Linked DNA regions of Homo sapiens. The protein of the gene in region 1 purifies or fractionates together with the protein of each later gene. This does not show direct contact. Each region holds a gene or a part of one and is shown in the gene's direction. Other genes may lie near its edges. The genes, in order: BTBD1, TRAPPC10, TRAPPC9, RABGEF1, AMY2A, AMY1C and COPS7B.

Region 1 (3,165 bases):
GTTAGACTCCATCTGTAAAAAAAAAAAAAAAAAAAATTAAACTAGCAAGGAATGGTGGAGTGTGTCTGCAGCCCAGCTACTTGGGAGGCTGAGGTGGAAGGATCACTTGAGCCCAGGAGTTCAAGCCTGTGGTGAGCCATGATTGTACCACTGTACCCCAGCCTCGGCAATAGAGCAAGACTCCATCTCTTTAAAAAAAATTACATGTTTGTAAGCGTTTAAGGTGATCTTACTGTACCAGATGTTCAAAATAGTACTGTTATCTAGCTTATAGGGCTGTTACGATGACTAAAGGAAATAATTCTGTAAAGAACTGAAGTTCAGTGCCTGGCACACTAGGAAGTACTCATGAAGTGGTATTGATGAGTTAGTATTACTAATAATTGAAGGTGTTGCTGACAATGTTGAGAGTTACTCAATGTAATTTTGCAATGTAAGACATTATAATTATGTCAGATTTTACAGGCTTTTAGTTCCATATGTATTATTATTATTATTATTATTATTATTTGAGAAGGAGTCTCGCTCTGTCACCCAGGATGGAGTGCCGGGTCACCTGCAGCTTCCTTCTCCCAGGTTCAAACGATTCTCCTGCCTCAGTTTCTCTAGTAGCTGGGATTACAGGTGCCTGCTATCATGCCCAGCTAACTGTTATATTTTTAGTAAAGACAGGGATTTGCCATGTTGGCCAGGCTGGTCTGAAACTCCTGACCTCAGGTAATCCACCTGGCTCAGCCTCCCAAAGTGCTGGGATTGCAGTGTGAGCCACCACACCCAGCCTCAGTTCCATATGTATTTAATGTCAGTTTTTATTCATTTACAAAATGGAGTAAGATGGGTCAATATTTCTTAACTATTATGACCAAACTGGACTTGTTAATTATTCTAGTTAGGAAACTGCATTCGAATCCTGTCCCATCCCTCTGCTACCAGTATTCTGTTAGAGTAGCCTACTTCCTTCACAGCTCTTGTTACAATTTGTAATTATTTATTTATTCCTTTCTTGCATTATCAGTGTCCTCCATTAGACTGTATGCACAATGCAGGTAGAAACTGTCTTGTTGACCATTACTTCCGCAGTGCCAAGCCTAGTACCTAAATATGATAAGCCCTTAGTAAGTATTTGTTGAATTGATAATTGTCGTAGTTTGAGATGCTGGGCTTCAGTCCTAATGGCTGAGATGTCTGCGTTCATGAAAAAGATGTACAAATATTTGGACTCGTATAGCACTAAAATTATCATTACAACAAAAGTGGGTATTTAGGTTAAATTCTTTTACAAAACCAATTCTTAGGTTCCTCTTAAGTTCAAATCTGCTCTAGAAAGCTTTTTGGTAAGCAAACAGATGACATTTCCAAGGATATCTAATTTGTTTTCCTTTTTATAAGCAAAACTGGATGTTCCAGGTTACACTTAAAAAAAATTATAACCCTTCAGAATATGAACACATGGGATTAATTATATTTTATTTTTGGCTTCTTTCTCTCAGATTCACAGTTAATAGAAGGATCTCTATAGTTGGATTTGGCTTGTATGGATCTATTCATGGCCCTACAGATTATCAAGTGAATATACAGGTACAGTTTCCTCCCCCACCATATATCATTTTGAAATAACACAAACAGGTAACTTTAAGATATTGTTTTGACAGAATCCAAATTTCAATATAATTGTCAAAGCAATCAGAAGGCCCCTTAGTAGCATTGTAAGCATAAAGAGTTCTGTTTTAGAGTTGATCTAAAAAGTCTGGTTGCAGAAAATTGGGGTCCTTCACAAAAGCAGTAGCATATAAGGAGCTCTTCTTTGTCCAGGAATCCCTTCTATTAGTACTTCCTGCTGTGCAGTCTTAAAACATCCTCCTGCCTTTTTCATGGCCCTTTCAACTCTAGGACTGAAACTAAATTTCTTGTAACTGGTGTGAGCATCCTGTGACTTCCAAGGGGCTGAGCAGACCCTGCTTTATTCTTGGTTACTTTTTTTTGAGACAGGGTCTCACTTGGTCGCCCAGGCTGAAGAGCAGTGGTGCGATCACAGCTCACTTCAGCCTTAATCACCCAGGCTCAAGCAATCCTCCCACCTCAGCCTCCCAAGTAGCTAGGACCACAGGTATGTGCCACCATGCCCAACTAATTTTTCTTTCTTTTTTTTTTTGTCTCGCTGTGTTGCCCAGGGTGGTCTTGAACTCCAGGGCTCAAGTGATCTTCCTGCCTTGGCCTCCCAAGGCATTGGGATTACAGGCATTAGGCCCCTGCTTCTTTTTTTTTTTTTTTTTTTTTTTTTTTGAGATGGAGTCTTGCTCTGTTGCCCAGGCTGGAGTGCAGTGGCGCGATCTTGGCTCATTGCAAGCTCCGCCTCCCGGGTTCACACAATTCTCCTGCCTCGGCCTCCTAGCACTTTGGGAGGCCAAGGAAGGTGGATCACGAGGTCAGGAGTTTGAGACCAGCCTGGCCAACATGGTGAAACCCTGTCTCTACTAAAAATACAAAAAAATTAGCTGGGCATGGTGGTGCATGCCTGTAATCCCAGCTACTCGGGAGGCTGAGATAGGAGAATTGCTTGAACTGGGACCTGGGAGGCAGATGTTGCAGTGAGCCAAGGTCATGCCACTGCCTTCCAGCCAGGGCTACAGAGTGAGACTCCGTCTCAAAAAAAAAAAAAAAAAGACACCAGGCTTCTTGTGTACAAACTGTGGGAGGGCATCAGGATTATAGGTACATTAAAATTATGAAGTATAAATACTGTGAGTAAAATAATAGAAACAGTCTGGGCGCAGTGGCTCAGATCTATAATCCCAGTACTTTGGGAGGCCGATGTGGAAGGATTGCTTGAGCCCAGGAGTTCCAGACCAGCCTGGGCAACAGAACACGATCCCATCTCTACAAAAAAAATGAAAAATTAGGGCTGGGCGCAGTGGCTCACACCAGCACTTTGGGAGGCTGAGGTGGGCAGATCGCTTGAGACCAAGAGTTGGAGATCAGCCTGGCCAACATGATGAAACCCTGTCTCTACTAAAAATACAAAAAAATTAGCCAGGTGTGGTCGCGCACATCTGTAATCCCAGCTACTCAGGAGGCTGAGGCACGAAAATTGCTTCAGCTTGGGAAGTGGAGGTTTCAGTGAGCCGAGACCCCAACACTGCACCCCAGGCTAGGCAACAGAGTGAG
Region 2 (3,500 bases), on another chromosome or scaffold:
GCGTATTTCTGGTGTGTTTCATAAAATCAGACTATCAAAGAGAAGAAACCCCAGTGGGTCATGTGGTTACCATTTCAGAGTACTCAAAGGAGATACAAGCTATAAGGAAAAAGATGCTTGTTTTCATTTTCTAAAAAAAAAAAAAAAAAAAGTGATTGAAATGAGATCTTGAAATCTGTACTCAAGTGATTTCATTAGGTGAAGCAAGAAATGAGAATTGATTTGAACTGATGTGAATTGGCTGGAAAGGGATTCTTAGATCAGCTAAGTGAACTTTCTGGTTTTCCGGATGTGGTTGGAGCAGCTTTGCCGATTACCCACTGGTTAACAGCAGAGTCACAGCTAGAATGTAGCTCTCTTGAACTTCCATGCTGTGTATCTGAAGAGGAAGGTGCTCCTTAAGGAAGCAGAGAGGCTTCTCGGGAAAGGGGAGGGGATCCTTGTTGCTCCTGAGGCTTTGACAAGCCCTTATTAATTTGCATTTTAAAGGCAGGCAAGGCCGCACACACCAGTAGTCCCAGCTACAGTGGAGGAGGCTGAGGCGGGAGGATCACTTGAGCTGAGGAGTTTGAGACTGCAGTGAGCTATGATCACACCACTGTATTCCAGCCTGAGTGACAGAGCAAGACCCCATCTTTAAAAAAAACAGTTGTGCTTTAAACTTTGCTTTGGGGGCCAAGTGTGGCTATTTTAATTCTCCGGCGTTCTCTGGAAGCTGGATCCTGTGGAGTGCTCTTTGCCTGAGTTTCCAAGTGGCTCTGTGCTCCCTTCCGCTTGCGCCCTGTAGACTGCTTCTGTGTTTCTGTGCCTTTAGTAGGTAGTGTAGACCCATACTTGGACTTCCTGGCTTCATTGCTGACTAGCAGTGTACTTGTGGACAAGCCCTTCCTTCACCTTCTCTTAGCCTTGGCCCTCTTGCCTGTCAGCTTGAGATCATGAATGATAGGCTCACTTTCTTATCCTGAGATTCAGCTATGAAAGTTCCTCGACATGTGTATAAAGCCAGACCAACGATGTGTTGTGCTCTTATCACCACACGCTCATTTCTCAGATCTTTGCCTGGGAGTCTAATTATGTCGTCCTGAGTAGGTACTCTTTCTCACGGAGTGGGGTGGGTGGAAAAGGGCTATCTAGAGATGTTGAGTCTGTCCTGGCATGGGGTCTGGAGGATGGAGGCCAAAGCGGGAGAGATGGGGTTTCAGTGTGTTGATTATCCCTAGCTGTAATGAAAGCTACTGTTTGTTGACTTTGCAAGGAGGAAAAAGGCTCCACAAAAGGCAGAAATCTATCTTCAAGGAGCACTGAAAAACTACCTGGCTGAGGGCTGGGCACTCCCCATCACACACACAAGGAAGCAGCTGGCCGAATGTCAAAAGCACCTTGGACAAATTGAAAAGTATCCTTTAATGTTTTCATGAAGCAGGAAAATTATTTTCTGTTTATACGGCAACATTGCCCACAATCAATGTTTCATTCACACCTATTATTAAGGAGAGAAAAGTCCTAACTTATACATATGTATTGTATAGAAAATGAATGAAATGTCTAGTCGATTTTTTATAATCTAATTTTGAGCCCTAGTAACTTAAAAAAAAAAAGCCCTTTGGCTTTTGAAGCCTCTGTGAAGGCCGTAGGAGACTTTGCATCCACTTCCCCCCGCACTCCTAAGTATGAGCCTCTCCACGCTCCTTACCTCTCCGCTCCAGCTACCTGCAGACCAGCAGCCTCTTAGCCAGTGACCACCACCTCACTGAAGAGGAGCGCAAGCACTTCTGCCAGGAGATACTTGACTTTGCCAGCCAGCCGTCAGACAGCCCAGGTAAGACCAGTTCTTACAACTTGACTAGGAATATTTTCAAATATTACAGAAGTAAAAAAGAATACAAGATATACCAACCACTTACAGTAAACAGTTGCTAACATTTTGCTGTGTAGCTGACATGTATCTATGTCTTTCACCTGACTTTTTTTTTTATTTTTGCTTTAAGTCAAACTCTAGACCACATTAGATCTTCTAAAAATAAGGACAGTCTCTTAACCACACCCAAAGAATTAATAAGGTTCTAATATCATCTGCTAAGTAGGCCATATTCATATTTCCCTAATTGTCTTAAAGTATTTTATAAATCATTTTTAATGGAGTCCAACAGGATATCACATATTACATGTGGTTGTTAGATCTCAGTTCTCTTTTAATGTAAAAAAAGTTCTTCCCATCTCTTTTTCTTCTTCTTCTTTTTTTTTTTTGAGACAGAGTCTCGCTCTGTTGTCCAGGCTGTAGTGCAATGGTGCCATCTCAGCTCACCACAACCTCCGTCTCCCGGGTTCAAGCAATTCTCCTGCCTCAGCCTCCCAAGTAGCTGGGGTTACGTGCGCCCGCCACCATGCCCTGCTAATTTTTTGTATTTTTAGTAGAGACAGTGTTTTGCTCTGTTGGCCAGGCTGGTCTCAGACTCCTGACCTCAGGTGATCCACCCACCTCAGCCTCCCAAAGGGCTGGGATTACAGATGTGAGCCACCGCACCCAGTCTTTTTCTTCATTTTTTAAGATGGTGCTTTTTTTTTTTTTTAAAATGTAACAGCATTATTGTGATATTCACAAACCATGTAATTCACTCATTTGAAGTTTATAATTCAATGGCTTTTAGTCTGTTTCAGGAATATGTGCAACCATTACCACAGTCAATATTATTGTTCTTTTTTTTTTTCTTTTTTTTTTTTTTTTTTTTGACTATCTTGCTCTCTTGCCTGGGCTGGAGTGCAGTGGCACGATCCCAGCTCACTGTAGCCTCAACCTTCTGGAGTCAAGAGATCCTCTTACTTTGGCTTCCTGAGTGGCAGGGACCACAGGTGTGGGCCACCACACCCAGCTATTTTTTTTCTTCTCTGTCTCCCAGGTTGGAGTGCAGTGGCATGATTGTAGCCCACTGCAACCTCTGCTTTTTGGGCTCAATTGCTCCTCCCACCTCCACCTCCTGTGTAGCTTGGACTACAGGAGCATACCACCATGCCTGGCTAATTTTTGTATTTTTAGTAGAGATGGTTTTGCCATATTGCCCAGGCTGGTCTTTAACTCCTGAGCTCAAGGAATCTACACACCTCGGTCTCCCAAAGTGCTGGAATTACAGATGTGAGCCACCATGCCTGGCCACCACAGTCAATTTTAAAACATATTTATCACCCTAAAAAGAAACCCCATACTGTAATCCCCAAAGTGCTGGGATTACAGGCGTGAGCCACCACGCTGGGCCCCAGATGCTTGTAAGTGAATACACCCCAGCAGTCAATAACCACATCAACCTGACCCTGAAACTTCTAGGAACTTCTGCCTGCCCTGGGAGGCCGGGGCAGGCAGATCACTTGAGGTCAGGAGTTTGAGACCAGCCTGGGCAACATGGCGAAACCCTGTCTCTACAAAAAATTAGCCAGGTGTGGTGGCGGGCACCTGTAGTCCCAGCTACCCAGGAGGCTGAGGTAGGAGGATCGCTTGAGCCCAGGAG
Region 3 (3,500 bases), on another chromosome or scaffold:
GCTGCTGTCCTCCAGCACTGGGGCTTCTGTTCGCTGCTGTACTGCACACTCCTGGAAAGGGACAGGCCATGTCCTACTCAAATTTGAATATTCACGGACCATAGACCTAGACAACAACTTCTAGATGAAAACATAGGATATCTTTGTGACCTCGGGCAAAGATTTTTCTCAGATGAGGACATAGAAGGCACTAACCATAGAAGAAAAAGCTGATAGATTGAGCTACATCACAGAGAAATGCTTTTGCTTATGAACACTCCCTTAGGGAAATAAATCGGCAACAGACCGGGAGGAAATATTTGCAAAACACATATAACTAAGGACTTGCATTCAGAATATATACAGAACTCGTACGACTCAGTAATAAAACAAACGATCTAATTTTAAAAACTGTCAGAAGATTTGAACAAGCGCTTCACAAAGGAAGATATACCAGTGGCCAGTGATCATATGAAAAAGGTTCAACATCATTAGTTTTCAGGGAAATGGAAGTTAAAGCCACCACAACGTCTAAAATAAAAAAGACTGATATCCTCATATGCTGGTGAGCAGGTGATATCCTCATATGCTGGTGAGCAGGTGATATCCTCATATGCTGGTGAGCAGGTGGAGCAACAGGGATTCTCACACATCGTCGGCGTCGGCATGACCTTTCACTGTAGGAAAAGTGGGGCTGGCAGAGATCCGATATGTAGGTAAATTGTGTGGGAGACACAGAGAAAGGACATTATGGAGTCCAGCATGGTTAGGAGAATTTAGGGAAAGAAGCAGCAGCTTCCCGCTGAAGGGCATGAGGACCAGCTTCTTGGAGAGGGTGGCATTGGAACCGAGTGTCCAAAGGGAGAGCCAGATGTGGCTGTGGAGGCATTGCAGGAGCAGAGAGCCTGTGTGCCCCGGCGGCGTCACCTAGTACAGCCTGCCTCATACGCTTCCACCCATGATTCTATGTCAAAGAGTATTTCATTGGACTTAGAGCAGCTATTTTGTTTATTTTTTCATTGATTTATTGTCATCCTCCCCACTGATTCTAAGCCAGGGGACTAGCCTGTCATTAGCATGGAGGCCCCCAGGGGTAGGAGTCTTAGCTTGTTTTGCTCACTGCTGTATCCTCTGCCACAAGAGTGGCTGGCACCAGAGTAGGGGTTCAGTAAATATGTGTTGACAGAATGAGAAAACAAATGAGTTAAAGTTGTTCAGTCTGGTGAGGTCATAGGTAGGCAGTGGGGCCTCGAATTTCCAGAGCAGGTTGGGGCTGAGGAGGGCCTGGCATGCCCGTGAAGGCATTTGGGCTCCATTTTACAGTCCTGAAGGGGTCTAGTGGTTTCAAGATGGGGATTGTCTTAGTCCGGTGAGGCTGCTGTCACAAAATGCCACAGACTGGGTGGCTGATAAACAATAGAAATGTATTGTGCACAGTTCTAGAGGCTAGAAGTCCATGATCCAGGTGCCAGCATGTTTGGTGTCTGGGGAGGGCCCACTTGCTTGTTCATAGACCGCCGTCTTTTCTCTGTGTTCTCACATGGTGCAACAGGTGAGCTAGCTCTTTAGGGTCTCTTCTTATAAGGGCACTAATTCCATTTGTGAGTGCTTCACCCCCTGACCCAATCACTTTTTAAAGTCCCCACCTCCTAATTCCATCACCTTGGGGGCTAGGCTTTCAACATGTGAATTTTGGGGAGGCACAAACATTCAAACCGTGGCTCGGGTGATGGGCTCTGAGCCATGTCTCAGGAACCTAAGTCTGGCAGGGGTGTGTGGACAGGTGAAGGAAGGTCGAGAGGTGGTAGGAAGACAATGCCGATTCCTCTTCCAGATGAGGGCTGACGAGGGCCCCATCGAGGCCATGGCAGTGAGCGCGGAGGAGAGGGGATGGAGGGAGGGTTTGGAGGCCCAAGTTGGAAGGGCGTTCAAGCTAAGGCTCTGTACTCACAGAAACATCAGGGAAACATTCATCGTCCAGGGCAGAGGAGGGAGAGAAGCGCTTCCTTAACAGTGCTCCTGGAGCAGCAGAGTGGGCTCTGCCTTCCTTCTTCTCTGAAGGCGCTGTGCAGTGGGCAGGGCCCAGGCCCAGAGTCAGGTCTTGTCCCTGATACTTCTTGGCTGTGTGATTTTGCACAGGTGATTAATGTGTCCCTGAGCTGTTAATGTCCTTATTTGCCAGCTCACAGGATGCTTGTATTGAGTAAATCAGGTACGTTAAGTCTGCTGCCATACAGTAGGTGCTGAAGAAACAGAAGTTGTTGGCTGGGCGTGGTGGCTCACACCTGTAATCCCAGCACTTTGGGAGACTGAGGCAGGCAGATCACCTGAGGTCAGGAGTTCGAGACCAGCCTGGTTAACATGGTGAAATCCCGTCTCTACTGAAAGTACAAAAATTAGCCAGCATGGGGGTGGGTGCTTGTAATCTCAGCTACACTGGAGGATGAGGCAGGAGAATCTCTTGAACCCGGGAGGTGGAGGTTGCAGTGAGCCAAGATCGTACCACTGCACTCCAGCCTGAGTGACAGAGTGAGACTCCGTCTCAAAAAAAAAAGAAAAGAAACAGAAGTTATGATTGCTACACTACAGGGTTGTTGGGAGGATTCAGTTGGGTCTTGGATGAAAGAAAACTTTTGTAAACCCTGAAGTCTTAAGTCTGATATCAGTGGTATTGTTAATAATTCATTACCCAGTTACATGATTCTGTGTCTTCTTGTGTTTTAAGAATTTTTGTGTTTGATGAGAGACCTTGATAAAATCCTGTTGTGTAGATGAACTCTTGTTCCTTTTCTTTTCTTTTGTGAAGGAACTTAAAGTAGAGGTCTCAGATTTGTAGCAGGTACCTTTGTAGCAGAGAATCTGGGCTTTATCAGCAGGAAGATGGGCTGCACCTGCAGCTGTGGCTGGGGAAGGTCTGAAGCCACCTGGGGCCTGCGCCATGCGCTGCTCACCAGGCTTTCCCTCTCCTTGATTCTCCTCGATTCTCCTCAGGTCTTTGTTTTATGAAGAGACATTTTTAATGTGTGCTTCTTTTTTCACTTATACGTTTCTTTCAAAAGCTTTTTACTTTCTCTCTGTGCTTCAGCTTTCTGAGGAAGAGAAAATTCAGCGCTACAGCATCCTCTCCGAGCTCTATGAGCTGATCGGCTTCCATCGCAAGTCTGCGTTCTTCAAGCGCGTGGCCGCCATGCAGTGCGTGGCCCCAAGCATCGCGGAGCCTGGGTGGAGGGCCTGCTACAAACTCCTCCTGGAAACGCTGCCCGGCTACAGTCTGTCGCTGGATCCCAAAGATTTCAGCAGAGGTACTGGAGTCCCCTTGCTGGCGCTAAGGTGTTGCTTTCTGTCTGATGGTCACATGCTGTTTCAGCCCCTGCCCTGAGTGGCAGACATCGTGGTTGGTGCTGGTGGCTCCAGAATGACTAGATCCCTGCCCTGGAGTTGGGTGCCTGCTGTAATCCGATTATAGGAAAAAGTACTGGTGCTTTGCCTTGGGGCTCGGATTCTTGAATCTTTATCAGTGG
Region 4 (3,500 bases), on another chromosome or scaffold:
TATAAAGGGAGGAATGGTAATAAATGGCCACATTTATTCATTCAACCCATACTGAGCACTAACCCTGTGCCTGGCCTTGTTCTAGGCATGAGGATATGGTGGTGAACAGTGCCCTTGTGGAGCTAACATTTTAGTTGGGGAAATGGACAATAAGCAGATCTGTAACATAGTGTTAAGTCCTACAAGAATGGAAAGCAGGATGAGAGACAGTGGCAGGGGTGAGTTCTTTTACATTATGAAAGCAATACTGTACTGGAGCATAAACTGCAGTAGAAATAGAAAAGGAGTTTTCGGCATTGTATTGTAAAATTACAGGGGTTGTGCTGGGCTGGGGGAGGAGAATATGATCCCTTGACACCAGTAAGACAGGCCTCTCGGGTCTCTAAAAGGAGCTCAGAGAGTTTCTAGTTGGAAGCGAGCACTACAGGTTGAGTATCCCTTATCCGAGAGCCTTGGGACCAGAAGTGTTTCAGATTTTGGGGTTTTCCCAGATTTTGGAATATTTACACATATATAAGATAACTTGGGACTGGGACCCAAGTCCAAACACAGAATTCATTTGTTGAATATATGCCTTACATACATAGCCTGAAGGTAATTTTATACCACATTTTAAGCAGTTTTGTGCATGTAACAGTTTTGGCTGCTTTTTGACTCTAGCCCATCATCACATGAGGCCAGGTGTGGAATTTCCCACTTGTGGTGTCATGTCGACACTGACAAATTTGGGATTTTTGAGCATTTCAGATTTTTTATTTTTGGGTTAGGAATGCTCAAATCTGTAGTAATAATCACAAGAATGAATATAGTTTCTTCTAAGTTAAGTGCTAAAATTTGGTGCAAATGAAAGGTGTAAAACCATGTGTAAACTACCTAAAAAGATTGAATGGATAAGCTTTTGCATAAAATACTTGAAGTAGAAGGATAGATTTGAGCACTGCAGTGTGTGCATGTATATGGGTAACTAGTTGACAGTAACAAGGGCTGCAGTCAAGGTGATCACAAAGTGCCATGAGTGCTTGGCCATTTTTACTGAGGGAATGAGGTGACTGCTCCTGACCCCAAGTGTCCTGCCATCCTTTTAGAGTTAAGCCAGATGGTCAGACTGCTGTGGGCTTCCACAGGATGTATCGGCCCTTGGCGTGTGAGGTCAGTGGCCTGTGTAGATGAAGTCTGTGACAGCCCGTCCTGGGGGTTTGTTCTCGGCCTTATTCATGTTCTTCTACTGTGACATCCTTATGAGAACCGTTGGGAGAAATTTTTGATTTTGGTGTCAGAATTTCACCCGAATAATTTGTTTGCTTTCATCTTTTGAACCCTGAATTACATAACTGTTTTCATCCTAGTGATGGTTGCTAAAAAATTTAGTTAGAGACAGATGTATGGGCTGACTCTTGACTAATTTAGACATCTTCCAGGAAAACATTTCTGTCTTGTCATCTGTGGCTCTGCTTTAGGTCTCTCTCCATGTTTAATTTTTTTTTTTTTTTTTTTTTTTTTACTTATTATTGTTAAAAAAATTTTTTAATTTCTTTCTTTCTCTTTCTTTCCTTTCTCTCCTTTCTCTCCCCTTTCTTTCTTTCCTCTTCTCTTTTCTTTTCTTTCTTGAGATGGGGTCTCACTATGTTGCCCAGGCTGGCCTCAAACTCCTAGGCTCAATCGATCCTCTAGCCTCAACCTCCCAGAGCACTGGGATTACAGTTATTTGTTATTCTTTTTATTTTCTAGTCTCTTGTGCTGAACTGCATTTATCTTTTAAATAGCCTTTAAATATTCTTTGGCAGAAAGTGAGAAACAAATACATATATTACACCTATAAAATCAGTAAAACCAAATAAAAATTATCAAGCCCAATGTTGTAAGGGCCATAGGGAAGTAAGTGCATACACGTGGTTAATGACAGTGTGCACTGAGTTTCTGAGGAGTGTGGCTAGCAATAGATACTTAGTGCTATAACATTGTTTATTCATATTAAGCGGTTAATGCCACTTTTGGAAATGTATGACAGAGAACCGAAAAGAAGATAGTCCTTACAAAATTATTTATACCTACAGTGCACAACAGTGAAAGAGGGGGAGCAACTCAAATGCACAGTGGTAGAGGAGAGTCGAAGAAGTCAGTTAATATAATGCAGTGTTATAAAGCCACCAGAAATGATTCAGTGGATTAGATAAATAGAAATGTACATAAAATATGTAAATTATCAAAACATGCATTAAATCTATTTAAGAATACGTAGATTTAGCAAAAAGAATGAGATGGTCATGGTGAGACCGCTAGGTGGGAAGGGGTCCCCGGAAAAACTCCAGCCAGCCTGCCCACCGGGGTGGAGTTTTGGGAAGTTTGCACCATTTGTAGCAGGGAGGAGCCTGGCCCCTCTTCTTTCTGTGTGGAGCCCAGGATTCTAGCTGCTGGCAGGAAGCACTCTAGCAGGGACTCTGGCCTTGTGAGTGTCTCGGATTCCCCCTTTTCTTCCTTTTCACCTAATAAAACCCTGTCTTACCCACCATTCAAACCGCCTGCGAGCCTAAATTTTTGTGGCTGTGAGACGGACAAGGATCCCGTCTTTAGCTGAACTAAGGAAAAGTCCGGCAACAATGGATATTGGAAATAATATTAATGGATAGGTTTTACTCTCCTGCAGGATTAATATAACCTGTGAGTACTTTTAGGCTTACTACCAGTACAAGGAATGGCTTTTGGAAAGTTCTTAGAATGTAGAGCTGTGCTTCTGCACTTTGTTCAGCTACAAGCAGCCTCTTTGTCTCTCTGTTTCAGGATCTAAGCATTGAAGAACAGTCAGAGTGTGCTCAGGATTTCTACCACAATGTGGCCGAAAGGATGCAAACTCGTGGGAAAGGTAACACTGTTAGCCATTGAGAGATTGCGGGTATTGCACAGGGATGACTGCTCAGTCTCTTAGCAATTTCTTTCTTTCTCTGATGGTCTGGCTGGTTTGTAGACTTCATCCTGTAACCTCATGGACATTCTGGGAACTGGTCTTATACTTAGCAGTGCCTTTGAACTGTACCATGCGTATCTTTCCAGGAGCAATTGGATAATTTATTGAGTAACATTTAATAACTCCATTGGGGCAGGGCTGGAGCTGACGAAAACATCTTAGGGCCTGGCTCAGTAGCTCATGCCTGTAATCCCAGCACTTTGGGAGGCTAAAGCAGGCGGATCACGTTAGGCCAGGAGTTCGAGACCAGCCTGGCCAACATGGTGAAACCCCGCCTCTATTAAAAATACAAAAAGTAGCCGGGTGTTGTGGTGCACCTCTTATCCCAGCTACTCGGGAGGCCGAGGCACAAGAATTGCTTGAACCCGGAAGGCGGAGGTTGCAGTGAGCTGAGACTGTGCCACTGCACTCCAGCCTGGGCAACAGATCGAGACTCTGTCTTCAAAAAAGAGAGAGAGAAAGAGAAAAACTTATTGGAAGGCTTTGCTAAATGAATTTTCCATCTTGGAATCACCATTTTGGTGAGTTATTGTATTAA
Region 5 (3,954 bases), on another chromosome or scaffold:
GCTACTGTCTCAAAATCTGAGCTCCCGGAGTGCACAATTTCTGTCCTTTTTAAGGGCTCACAACACTAAAGATTTCACATGAAAGGGTCGTGATTGATTTGAGCAAGCAAGGGATACGTGACAAGGACTACATTCACTGCTGGTCAGGGAGAAACAGAACAGGGCAGGGAGTTTCACAGAGTTCTTTTATACAATGTCTGGAATCTGTGAATAATATCAGCTTCTAAATCATAAGTTGATTTTTAGCTACTGGGTTTAGGCCAATCAGGCCCAGGCCTGGTTTCAGGCCTGGCGCTGGGCTGCATGTCTTTGGTTGTACTTCCTGGTTGTTTTTACTGAATAGAAAACAATATAAAACAAGGAGAGGGTCTTTGTCTCCTCTCAATATCAGCACTGGATTGTAGAATGTGTTGCTGATTTTGACCTTGTATTCAAGTTAACTGTTGCCCTTGGTATCTGTACATATCTTTGATTTCAGTCTTTACTACACGTGGCTTGGTCACTTCATGGCTAAAAACATGCTTGTGGAAGACCAGTCTGGCTCGGTGAGTCTGTGCGGCCAGCAGTCTCTGATCTGTACAGGGTATTAATGTGTCAGGGCTGAGTGTTCTGGGATTTGTCTAGAGGCTGGTAAGGGCTTCTGGACCACTTGTTTCTGTCCTGTCAGTCTGTCAGGGTTGGAAAGTCCAAGCCATAGGACCCAGTTTCCTTTCTTAGCTTACGTTATCTACCAGAGCACCGTGGGCTGTTACTTACCTTGAGTTGGAAGGGGTTCGCATTTATACCTGTAAAAGTATTCATCCTTTTAATTTATGTAAAGTTTTTTTGTATGCCATTCTGGATCTTTAAAGAGATGACAACAAATTTTGGTTTTCTACTGTTATGTGAGAACATTAGGCCCCAGCAACAGGTCACTGTTTAAGGAAAAATAAAAGTGCTGCCAGAACCTAAGAAAAACATTAATATCTAAAAGGTCATTTAGATGATTTCCATGAGAGACTTTTTGATGTTCTTTACCTGTTAGGATTATTATTGATAATCCTTTTCAGATTATGAATAAACAGTTTGCCCTCAAGTATTTATTCATGCTAATATTTACTTTGTAAAATGTGCTTCTTACAGGAATATAAATAGTTTCTGGAAAGGACACTGACAACTTCAAAGCAAAATGAAGTTCTTTCTGTTGCTTTTCACCATTGGGTTCTGCTGGGCTCAGTATTCCCCAAATACACAACAAGGACGGACATCTATTGTTCATCTGTTTGAATGGCGATGGGTTGATATTGCTCTTGAATGTGAGCGATATTTAGCTCCGAAGGGATTTGGAGGGGTTCAGGTGGGTATGATTCATAGTATCAATTGCGGAATTCACTGTGCTTGTAGGAAATAGTATTCTGATCTTATCTGTGAAGCTTGGGCAACATTTTACTTCACAGGTAAGTATTCTAAGTAAAAGAGATTTCTGAGGGAAAATCTATGTAGTATTCTTGGCAACTTTATATTTTGTTTCTGAGATAATCTTTCTTCACCAAGAGCCCTCCAATGTGCTGTTAATATTTTCAAGAGATAGCTGCCTATACCAAGATTCAAGAATCTTTTATACTATTGATTAGTTTCTAGAACATTCAATGATACACAGTAAGACAGAATTTGGTACTTATGAAGACTGTTTAATTTGTAGGTCTCTCCACCAAATGAAAATGTTGCAATTTACAACCCTTTCAGACCTTGGTGGGAAAGATACCAACCAGTTAGCTATAAATTATGCACAAGATCTGGAAATGAAGATGAATTTAGAAACATGGTGACTAGATGTAACAATGTTGGGGTAAGTGAATTCTAGTTTCCTTTAAAAATAACAGACAGGAAAATGGTTTCTCTCTCTTCTTTCTTGCTCCTTTTCAGCAGAAAATTTTCCGTATTTTATTTTTTTAATTTTACTTCATAATTTAAAACTCAAAATTAACTGTTTATTTATGTTCAACTTTTGTGAATATTTGTGTGTGTGCTATCTACTAAAGAGGTAAGTTAAAGTTTAAATCAGAATTTGCTTCTAAAGCAAAACATCAAATTTTAACCCTTATAACTGTTCGTATTTCCCGGAAACAATTTACTGGTTAGGAAGTATAATTCCAGTTACAATGTTTGCTATCATTTTTAGGTGACTTGTGTCTCCATCCGTAATTCTTGGGTTTTTCATGGTGAATAGCTAGCTTCTCTATTTAATGAGGAGCATAAATTGAGATTAATAGCTACCTTGTTTGTCTTCAAAAGCTTCATAGAGAGTACAGGCTTTCTCCTGGTGACCCACTGAAATTTCCAAAACAATAACCTTTCCACTCTCATCTGAGTTTTGTCTTCCCAAAGTGGGCTTTTTGCATTTCCTCCTATTTATGGTAGTTTCTGGTCTCTCAATTTATCATTCCTATAAATATTTGACCAAGTGTCTAGAAGGCATGTAGGTGTTTAGTTCACATTACTTTCCTTTCACAGTTGATTTTTGATCTTGTAGGAAAATAATTATAAGATATCATGAAATATTTTGGAGTTTTATTAACATACTATAAACTTGCATCAATAATGCTTTAAATTTCTACCTCTCTGTAAGTCACACTGAAGTAGAAACTTTGTTTTCTAGGTTCGTATTTATGTGGATGCTGTAATTAATCATATGTGTGGTAACGCTGTGAGTGCAGGAACAAGCAGTACCTGTGGAAGTTACTTCAACCCTGGAAGTAGGGACTTTCCAGCAGTCCCATATTCTGGATGGGATTTCAATGATGGTAAATGTAAAACTGGAAGTGGAGATATCGAGAACTACAATGATGCTACTCAGGTAATTTTTTTACGAGAGTGATCTGAATAAAAGAGTAATATATGCCTTTTCTTGTAGACATGTAGCTAATTGAATTTCATTTAAAATAGGAATTTAGATCTCTTAGGGACAGAAGTTAACAAGTTTGACTACTTTAAGAAACTCAAATCCATATTTAAGAACTTTCAAATATTGATTTAAGATTTTTAATCAATACACATTTGCCCACTTCTAAGAAGTTCCCAATTAAAAATCTCATCGACTTTATTTCCTAAATTCTCTATTTTCTATTAGAAAATATTTCAAAGATACATCTGTAGTAGAATGTGAGCATCCCCAGTGCCCAATGCAAGGAAGTCACTATAGAATATCTCTTGAGGAATCATGGAATAAATGAATAATCCAATGGATTCTCAGGAGAAAAATGAGGTTTTATGAATCAATCATAACATTTTTACCTCAACAGGTCAGAGATTGTCGTCTGACTGGTCTTCTTGATCTTGCACTGGAGAAGGATTACGTGCGTTCTAAGATTGCCGAATATATGAACCATCTCATTGACATTGGTGTTGCAGGGTTCAGACTTGATGCTTCCAAGCACATGTGGCCTGGAGACATAAAGGCAATTTTGGACAAACTGCATAATCTAAACAGTAACTGGTTCCCTGCAGGAAGTAAACCTTTCATTTACCAGGAGGTACATCAATACTTATATGCCTATAAAATATCATCTTATTCGTTAGAAAATTAATGGAAGATTTAATTAAAAATGCAATTTCTGTAGGATAAGGAATGAGACATTTACATAAAACAGTGTTCTTTAACCTCCTCTTCTTCACATACAGCATATCTAATTCTTTATCACAACATGTTTTATGGAGGTACACAGAATGTAGGATACTGATAATAGTTATGTCTTTACTTTCTTTGGATAATGAAACAAGTTAATATTTATCAAGGAATTTCAGTCGATACTAAATGTTTTATTAGTGTGAGCTCTTATTATTATCATTGATGTAGAAGACTAAAAATTAGGTAAGTATTTTCACAGGACAACAGGTATCTTTGACATTATGCTTCTTTCAATATTGTAGCCTATACTTTATCAAATAAAAGAATATAAGAATATTACCTGTTGA
Region 6 (4,054 bases), on another chromosome or scaffold:
ATAAGGGGTTGAGGGCACTGTTGGTGCCATCTCCTGCCTTGAGTCCTCGAGCTCTGGGTCAAACAGAACTTTAGGTGCTGGCTTCTCTTGGCCGGTGGAGCGAGAACTTTCCTGAAATAAATGTCCCTTTGCTACTACTACTGCTGCTGCCTGTCCTTTTACCACTGTAGAGGATCTAAAACTAGCTGTAACTAGGAATCTCTATATGGAAATTGATATGGGTGCAGGCACACCATGAGCGATCAGGCCAAGCTTCCGCTCAGGTGGAGTGGGGCAAGTTGAAAAGACTTGTCTTACTAAGTTTCAGATGTCTGGACTCCAAGTGCCAGTTCCTTCCTGGTGTTCAGCCACTGTGTTAATCCTCCGCGGGGATCACTGCTCTGGCGAGGCGTTCAACCGGGGCCATTTCCTACCTGGGAGCGCTCTTTGGATCCCATCCCTCAGGCTGGCCAGAGTCCCTGGCAGCCTGAGGGATGCCCCGGCCTTACTCCACAAGGCATGCCTAATCTGCCTAAGGAGCTGCCTCGGCCGTCCATCAGTTATCTTGCTTCCAGGTCAGGGAACCAAGAAATGTAGCAGGACAAGCGGCAGACAAAACTCTCAGACACCGAGTTGTAGAAGGAAGGGTGTTATTCACCTGGGAGCATCGGATAGCTACTGTCTCAAAATCCGAGCTCCCCAAGTGCACAATTTCTGTCCCTTTTAAGGGCACACAGCACTAAAGATGTCACATGAAAGGGTCGTGATTGATTTGAACAAGCCAGGGATATGCGACAAGGACTACATGCACCCGTGGTCAGGGAGAAACAGAATATGGAAGGGAGTTTCACAATGTTCTTCTATACAATGTCTGGAATCTATGAATAACATCGGCTTCTAAATCATAAGTTGATTTGTAACTACTGGGTTTAGGCCAACCAGGCCCAGGCCTGGTTTTGTGCCTTTGATTTTGCTTCCTTGTTGTTTTTACTGAATAGAAAACAATATAAAACAAGAGGACAGGGTCTTTCTCTCTTCTCAATATCAGCACTGGATTGTAGAACTTGTTGCTGATTTTGGCCTGGCATTCAAGTTAACTCTTCCCCTTGGTATCTGTACATACCTTTGATGTCAGTGTTTAGTACACGTGGCTTGGTCACTTCATGGCTAAAAACGTGCTTGTGGAAGACAAGTCTGGCTTGGTGAGTCTGTGTGGTCAGCAGTCTCTGATCCGTGCAGGGTATTAATGTGTCAGGGCTGAGTGTTCTGAGATTTATCTAGAGGCTGGGAAGGGCTCCTGAACCAGTTGTTTCCGTCTTGTCGGTCTGTCAGGGTTGGAAAGTCCAAGCCATAGGACCCAGTTTCCTTTCTTAGCTTACGTTATCTACCAGAGCACCGTGGGCTGTTACTTGCCTTGAGTTGGAAGCGGTTCGCATTTATACCGGTAAATGTATTCATCCTTTTAATTTATGTAAAGTTTTTTAGTATGCAATTCTCGATCTTTTAAGAGTTGACAACAAATTTTGGTTTTCTGCTGTTATGTGAGAACATTAGGCCACAGCAACATGTCATTGTGTAAGGAAAAATAAAAGTGCTACCATATGCAAAAAAAAAAAAAAAAAGAAAAGAAAAGAAACATTAATGTCTAAGAGGTCATTGAGATGATTTCCATGAGAGACTTTTTGATGTTCTTCACCAGTTAGGATTATTATTGATAATCCTTTTCAGATTATGAATAAACAGTTTGCCCTCAAGTATTTATTCATGCTACTATTTACATTGTAAAATGTGCTTCTTACAGGAATATAAATAGTTTCTGGAAAGGACACTGACAACTTCAAAGCAAAATGAAGCTCTTTTGGTTGCTTTTCACCATTGGGTTCTGCTGGGCTCAGTATTCCTCAAATACACAACAAGGACGAACATCTATTGTTCATCTGTTTGAATGGCGATGGGTTGATATTGCTCTTGAATGTGAGCGATATTTAGCTCCCAAGGGATTTGGAGGGGTTCAGGTGGGTATGATTCATAGTATCAATTGCAGAATTCACTGTGCTTGTAGTAAACACTATTCTGATCTTCTACGTGAAGCTTGGGCAACATTTTACTTCACAGGTAAGTATTCTAAGTAAAAGAATTTTCTGAGGAAAAAACAATGTAGTATTCTTTGCAACTGTATATTTTGTTTCTGATATAATCTTTCTTCAACAAGAGCCCTCCGATGTGCTGTTAATATTTTCAAGAGATAGCTGCCTATACCAAGATTCAAGAATCTTTTGTATTATTGATTAGATTCTAGAACATTCAATGATATACAGTAAGACAGAATTTGGTACTTATGAAGACTGTTTAATTTGTAGGTCTCTCCACCAAATGAAAATGTTGCCATTCACAACCCTTTCAGACCTTGGTGGGAAAGATACCAACCAGTTAGCTATAAATTATGCACAAGATCTGGAAATGAAGATGAATTTAGAAACATGGTGACTAGATGCAACAATGTTGGGGTAAGTGAATTCTAGTTTCCTTTAAAAATAACAGATAGGAAAATGATTTCTGTCTCTTCTTTCTTGCTCCTTTTGAGCAGAAAGTTTTCCATATCAGTTTTAATTTTACTTCATACTTTAAAACTCAAAAGTAACTGTCACCTTATGTTCAATTTTTGAAAATATTTGTATATGTGCTCTCTACTAAAGAGATAAGTTAAAGTTTATAGCAGAGTTTACTTCTGAAGCAAAACATCAAATTTTAACCGCTATAACTATCCATATTTCCTGGAAGGATTTTCTGGTGAGGAATTTTAATTCCAGTTACAATATTTGCTCTCATTTTTAGATGACTTGTGTCTCCATTCCTAATTCTTGGGTTTTTTTTGTGGTGAATAGGTAGCTTATCTATTTAATGAGGAGCAGAATTTGAGATGAATAGCTACCTTATTTGTCTTCCAAGCTTAGTAGAGAGTACAGGCTTTCTCCTGGTGACCCACTGAAATTTCCCAAATAGTAACCTTTTCAGTCTCATCTGAGTTGTGTCTCCCCAAAATGGGCTTTTTGCCTTTCCTCCTATTTATGGTAGTTTCCGGTTCTCTCAGTTTATCATTCCTATATATATTTGGCCAAGTGTCTGGAATGAATGTAGGTGTTTAGTTCACATTACTTTCCTTTCACAGTTGATTTTTGATCTTGTAGGAAAATAGTTATAAGGTATGAAATATTTTGGAATTTTATTAGCACACTATAAATTTAATCAATAATTCTTTAAATTTCTGCCTCTCTGTAAGTCACACTGAATTAGAAACTTTGTTTTCTAGGTTCGTATTTATGTGGATGCTGTAATTAATCATATGTGTGGTAATGCTGTGAGTGCAGGAACAAGCAGTACCTGTGGAAGTTACTTCAACCCTGGAAGTAGGGACTTTCCAGCAGTCCCATATTCTGGATGGGATTTTAATGATGGTAAATGTAAAACTGGAAGTGGAGATATCGAGAACTATAATGATGCTACTCAGGTAATTTTTTTACGAGAGTGATCTGAATAAGGAGTGATATATGCCTTTTGTTGTAGACATGTAGCTAATTGAACTTCGTTGTAAATATGAATTTAGATCTCTTAGGGACAGAGGTTAACAAGTTTGACTACTTTAAGAAACTCAAATCCATATTTGAAAACCTTTAAATATTGATTTAAGATTTTTAATCAATACACATTTGTCCACTTTTAAAAAGCTCCCAACCAATTGAAAAACTCATCGACTTTATTTCCTAAGTTCTCTATTTTCTATTAGAAAATATTTCCAAGATACATCTATAGTAGAATGTGAGCATCCCCAGTGTCCAATGCAAGGAAGTCACCATAGAATATCTCTTGAGGAATCATGGAATAAATGAATAATCAAATGGATTCTCAGGCGAAAAGTGAGGTTTTATTAATCAATCATAACATTCTTACCTCAACAGGTCAGAGATTGTCGTCTGTCTGGTCTTCTCGATCTTGCACTGGGGAAGGATTATGTGCGTTCTAAGATTGCCGAATATATGAACCATCTCATTGACATTGGTGTTGCAGGGTTCAGAAT
Region 7 (3,154 bases), on another chromosome or scaffold:
ACCAAGTTTTTCCCTGGGCCAAGTCTTATTTCTTTTTATTGCATGTCAGGGTTACTGAGCCCCTAAAAAAGCTGAATGAGAGCAGTTTCTACAGGAGAAAATGGCTTGAGGAAGTAAATAGGCATCTGAATAACAGGGGAAAGTGTCCATGCTTCTGTCTACTTATTTGTTCAAAAGCTTTTGACAGGATCTTGAATCTCAAAGGCTTTTAAATAGAATTGAGTCACCATGAGAGAGGGAGGCTGCGTTATGGTAGGGAGTGGCAGTACAGAAATGAAGCAGAGGGTCAGCCCTTCTGTGACTGCAGAAGGATGATGCGCGGGCTCCCTCAGGACCAGAGTGAGAACCATGAGTTTGTGGCTCTGTGAAGGAGAAGCATTGGAAGTGTTGAGCTTTGAAAAGAAAAAGAGTAAAACAGCAAAGCCTTGGGAGTCAGTTGAACTGGTCAGTTGCTGAGAGGCTGGCAGCGGAGCGTTGCCGTTGGTGGATGTGCCACAGGCAGAGTTTGCTCCTTGGCTGGCAGGTCAGGGACTCATCACTCAGCCCAGCCATAGATACTCTGAGTCCAAAGCCGGCCCAAATCACCTTGGGCCACTCTAAAGAGAGAAATAAATGCCGGTTGTCACTTTCTGATAGGCTGATAATGACTTTATGCTACAAAAACATAGGTGAAGCGGATTGAAAATATAACCATTATTTGGGGATTGATTAATGCCTTTTCCTTACTCATGCAGGGGTTATGAGACTGTCAGTAAATCTAAGACATGTTAAATAATGTAGAAAACTATTTGTAGTATAAGCTGATTTTTTTTTTTTTTTTTGAGACAGAGTCTGGCTCTGTAGCCCAGGCAGGAGTGCAGTGGCGCGATCTTGGCTCACTGCAAGCTCTGCCTCCCGGGTTCACGCCATTCTCCTGCCTCAGCGTCCCGAGTAGCTGGGACTACAGGTGCCCGCCACGTCACCCGGCTAACTTTTTATATTTTTAGTAGAGATGGGGTTTCACCGCGTTAGCCAGGATGGTCTCGATCTCCTGACCTCGTGATCTGCCTGCCTCAGCCTCCCAAAGTGCTGGGATTACAGGCGTGAGCCACTGTGCCTGGCCTAAGCTGATTGTTTAGTAAAAATTATTACACAAATAACTTGAGGAAATAAGGCTAAATAGTGCTTATCAGACAAGATGAAATTAGGAATTTTTTTTGGTTTTGTTTTTTTAATTTTTAATAAAGCTATTTTGCCAAATGGGAAAGGTAATTATTTGCTTGGAAAGATACCCCATTTTGGAAATACAGTCCTTGAAACAAAAACTTGTTTGTTTTCTAATGTCTTATTTGATTAAAATTTTGTCAGCTTTTGGGGAGACTTTAAAACACATTCCCTCAGGTAATGTTAAATTGCAGGATCTTCTTTGGAAGTTAGAGGTAACTGACATGCAAATAAATAAACTAAAGTCATGTCGTTACCTCTTATTATGATTTTAGTTCATTTTCTTCTGGATATTTAGAAAATATATCAAATTGGAGAAGCCTTAGAATGTTATTTTATAAAGCAGTGTTCCCTGAGAAGTCAAATTTCTTAATTTTTCCTCCAATGTCATCAAAATATGCCTTAGCTGGGCATGATAGTATGTGTCTGTAGTCCCAGCTACTTAGGAGGCTGAGGCAGGCAAATTGGTTCATGCCAGAAGTTTGAGACCAGCCTGGGCAACATAGCAAGATCCCATTTCTATTTTTTAAAAAAAGTCTTAAAACAAATAATATTTCTTTTATCAGAGAAAGAGTGATAAGCCATTGGCTTGCTCCAGATCATTCACTCACCACCTTGCCAGGTGACTCACTGAATGAGGTACACCAAAGTGGCAGTGAGCCGCTGGGAGGGCGAGATGCCTCAGGGTTCTGGGGTTCCCAGATTGTGTTTTGTTGTCTGGCAGGACACTGGATAAACCCAGAGTTGAATTCCCCTCCCTGTTTATTATATATATATATATATATTTTTTTTTAAATTTTATATATATATATATATATATATTTATATATTTCCAGGCACTGGGTCTTGCTGTGTCACCCAGGCTGGAATCAGTGGTGTAATCATAGTTCACTGCAGCCTCAAACTCCTGGACTTAAGTGATCCTCCTGCCTCAGCCTCCTGAATAGCTAGGACTATAGGCATGTGCCACCACACCAGGCACATGTTTTTTTCTTTTATGTCTTTTTGTTGAGATAAGGTCTTACTTGAATGTCATCTAGGCTGGAGTGCAGTGGTGCAGACATGGCTCACTGTAGCCTCTACCTCTTGGGCTTAAGCGATCCTCCTGCCTCAGCCACTTGAGTAGCTGGGACTACAGGTGCATGCCACCATACCTGGCTAAAATTTTTTTTTTTTTTTTTAAGAAAGACAGGGTCCCACTATGTTGCCCAGGCTGGTCTTGAACACCTGCTCTTGAGCAATTCTCTTTGCTCAGCCTCCCAAAGTGCTAGAAGTATAGGTGTGAGCCACCATGCCCAGCCTGCCCTCTGTAATGACTGTTCCAGCCCACAGTCCTCTGTCATTCTCTCTTCAGAAAGGCTACAGCGTTGATTGAGGTTACAGAAGTTTAGGGCATGGCTTTTCCCCCTGTCTCAAAATAGTGACAACAAAAAACAATTTATGATCTAGTTAAGGTGGATTCTGCAGATGATGGCTCTCCTCCAGGAACCCAATTTTTGTCTCACCCTCATAGCATTGTTTTGTCTTTGCATTTGGACTGTCTCTTACCCTCAAGCTCATAATATTCTGACTGTTGAGAACTTTTGACCCTGACAACTCCTTTTCACTATGTAGAAAACTGGCTGGGTGTGGTGGCTCATGCCTGTAATCCCAGCACTTTGGGAGGCCAAGGTAGGAGGGTCAGTTGACCCTGGGAGTTTGAAAACAGCCTGGACAACGTGGTGAAACCTTGTCTCTACAAATAAGTTTTTAAAAATTAGCCAGGCATGGTGGCAAGCGCCTGTGGTCCAAGCTGCTCAGGAGGCTGAGGTGGGAGGATCACTTAAGCCTGGGCAGTTGAGGCTGCAGTGAGCTGTGATTGTGCCACTATACTCCATCCTGTACAACAGAGTAAGACTCTGTCTCCAAAAAAAAAAAAAAAAAAGACTAAAAAAGCTATTACTTATTTGAC

What was found.
Region 2: the proteins of BTBD1 (region 1) and TRAPPC10 purify together in Homo sapiens (affinity purification with mass spectrometry; 2 studies listed by BioGRID and IntAct, with this or other methods). This does not show direct contact.
Region 3: the proteins of BTBD1 (region 1) and TRAPPC9 purify together in Homo sapiens (affinity purification with mass spectrometry; 2 studies listed by BioGRID and IntAct, with this or other methods). This does not show direct contact.
Region 4: the proteins of BTBD1 (region 1) and RABGEF1 purify together in Homo sapiens (co-immunoprecipitation; one large-scale study listed by IntAct). This does not show direct contact.
Region 5: the proteins of BTBD1 (region 1) and AMY2A purify together in Homo sapiens (affinity purification with mass spectrometry; one large-scale study listed by BioGRID and IntAct). This does not show direct contact.
Region 6: the proteins of BTBD1 (region 1) and AMY1C purify together in Homo sapiens (affinity purification with mass spectrometry, with the first as the bait; one large-scale study listed by BioGRID). This does not show direct contact.
Region 7: the proteins of BTBD1 (region 1) and COPS7B purify together in Homo sapiens (affinity purification with mass spectrometry; 2 studies listed by BioGRID and IntAct, with this or other methods). This does not show direct contact.

The regions. Positions count from the first base shown.
Region 1 is NC_000015.10:83,019,088-83,022,252, reverse strand, and holds part of BTBD1 (BTB/POZ domain-containing protein 1), read left to right. Parts: intron 1-1,490; coding exon 1,491-1,578; intron 1,579-3,165.
Region 2 is NC_000021.9:44,078,309-44,081,808, forward strand, and holds part of TRAPPC10 (trafficking protein particle complex subunit 10), read left to right. Parts: intron 1-1,255; coding exon 1,256-1,396; intron 1,397-1,706; coding exon 1,707-1,819; intron 1,820-3,500. UniProt on the Homo sapiens protein: Specific subunit of the TRAPP (transport protein particle) II complex, a highly conserved vesicle tethering complex that functions in late Golgi trafficking as a membrane tether.
Region 3 is NC_000008.11:140,370,745-140,374,244, reverse strand, and holds part of TRAPPC9 (trafficking protein particle complex subunit 9), read left to right. Parts: intron 1-3,064; coding exon 3,065-3,281; intron 3,282-3,500. UniProt on the Homo sapiens protein: Functions as an activator of NF-kappa-B through increased phosphorylation of the IKK complex. May function in neuronal cells differentiation. May play a role in vesicular transport from endoplasmic reticulum to Golgi.
Region 4 is NC_000007.14:66,792,733-66,796,232, forward strand, and holds part of RABGEF1 (rab5 GDP/GTP exchange factor), read left to right. Parts: intron 1-2,778; coding exon 2,779-2,860; intron 2,861-3,500. UniProt on the Homo sapiens protein: Rab effector protein acting as linker between gamma-adaptin, RAB4A or RAB5A. Involved in endocytic membrane fusion and membrane trafficking of recycling endosomes. Stimulates nucleotide exchange on RAB5A. Can act as a ubiquitin ligase.
Region 5 is NC_000001.11:103,616,273-103,620,226, forward strand, and holds the start of AMY2A (pancreatic alpha-amylase precursor), read left to right. Parts: upstream 1-1,154; 5' UTR 1,155-1,168; coding exon 1,169-1,336; intron 1,337-1,681; coding exon 1,682-1,828; intron 1,829-2,638; coding exon 2,639-2,836; intron 2,837-3,281; coding exon 3,282-3,512; intron 3,513-3,954.
Region 6 is NC_000001.11:103,748,644-103,752,697, forward strand, and holds the start of AMY1C (alpha-amylase 1C precursor), read left to right. Parts: upstream 1-1,254; 5' UTR 1,255-1,423; intron 1,424-1,780; 5' UTR 1,781-1,826; coding exon 1,827-1,994; intron 1,995-2,339; coding exon 2,340-2,486; intron 2,487-3,289; coding exon 3,290-3,487; intron 3,488-3,935; coding exon 3,936-4,054. UniProt on the Homo sapiens protein: Calcium-binding enzyme that initiates starch digestion in the oral cavity.
Region 7 is NC_000002.12:231,803,445-231,806,598, forward strand, and holds part of COPS7B (COP9 signalosome complex subunit 7b), read left to right. Parts: intron 1-3,154. UniProt on the Homo sapiens protein: Component of the COP9 signalosome complex (CSN), a complex involved in various cellular and developmental processes.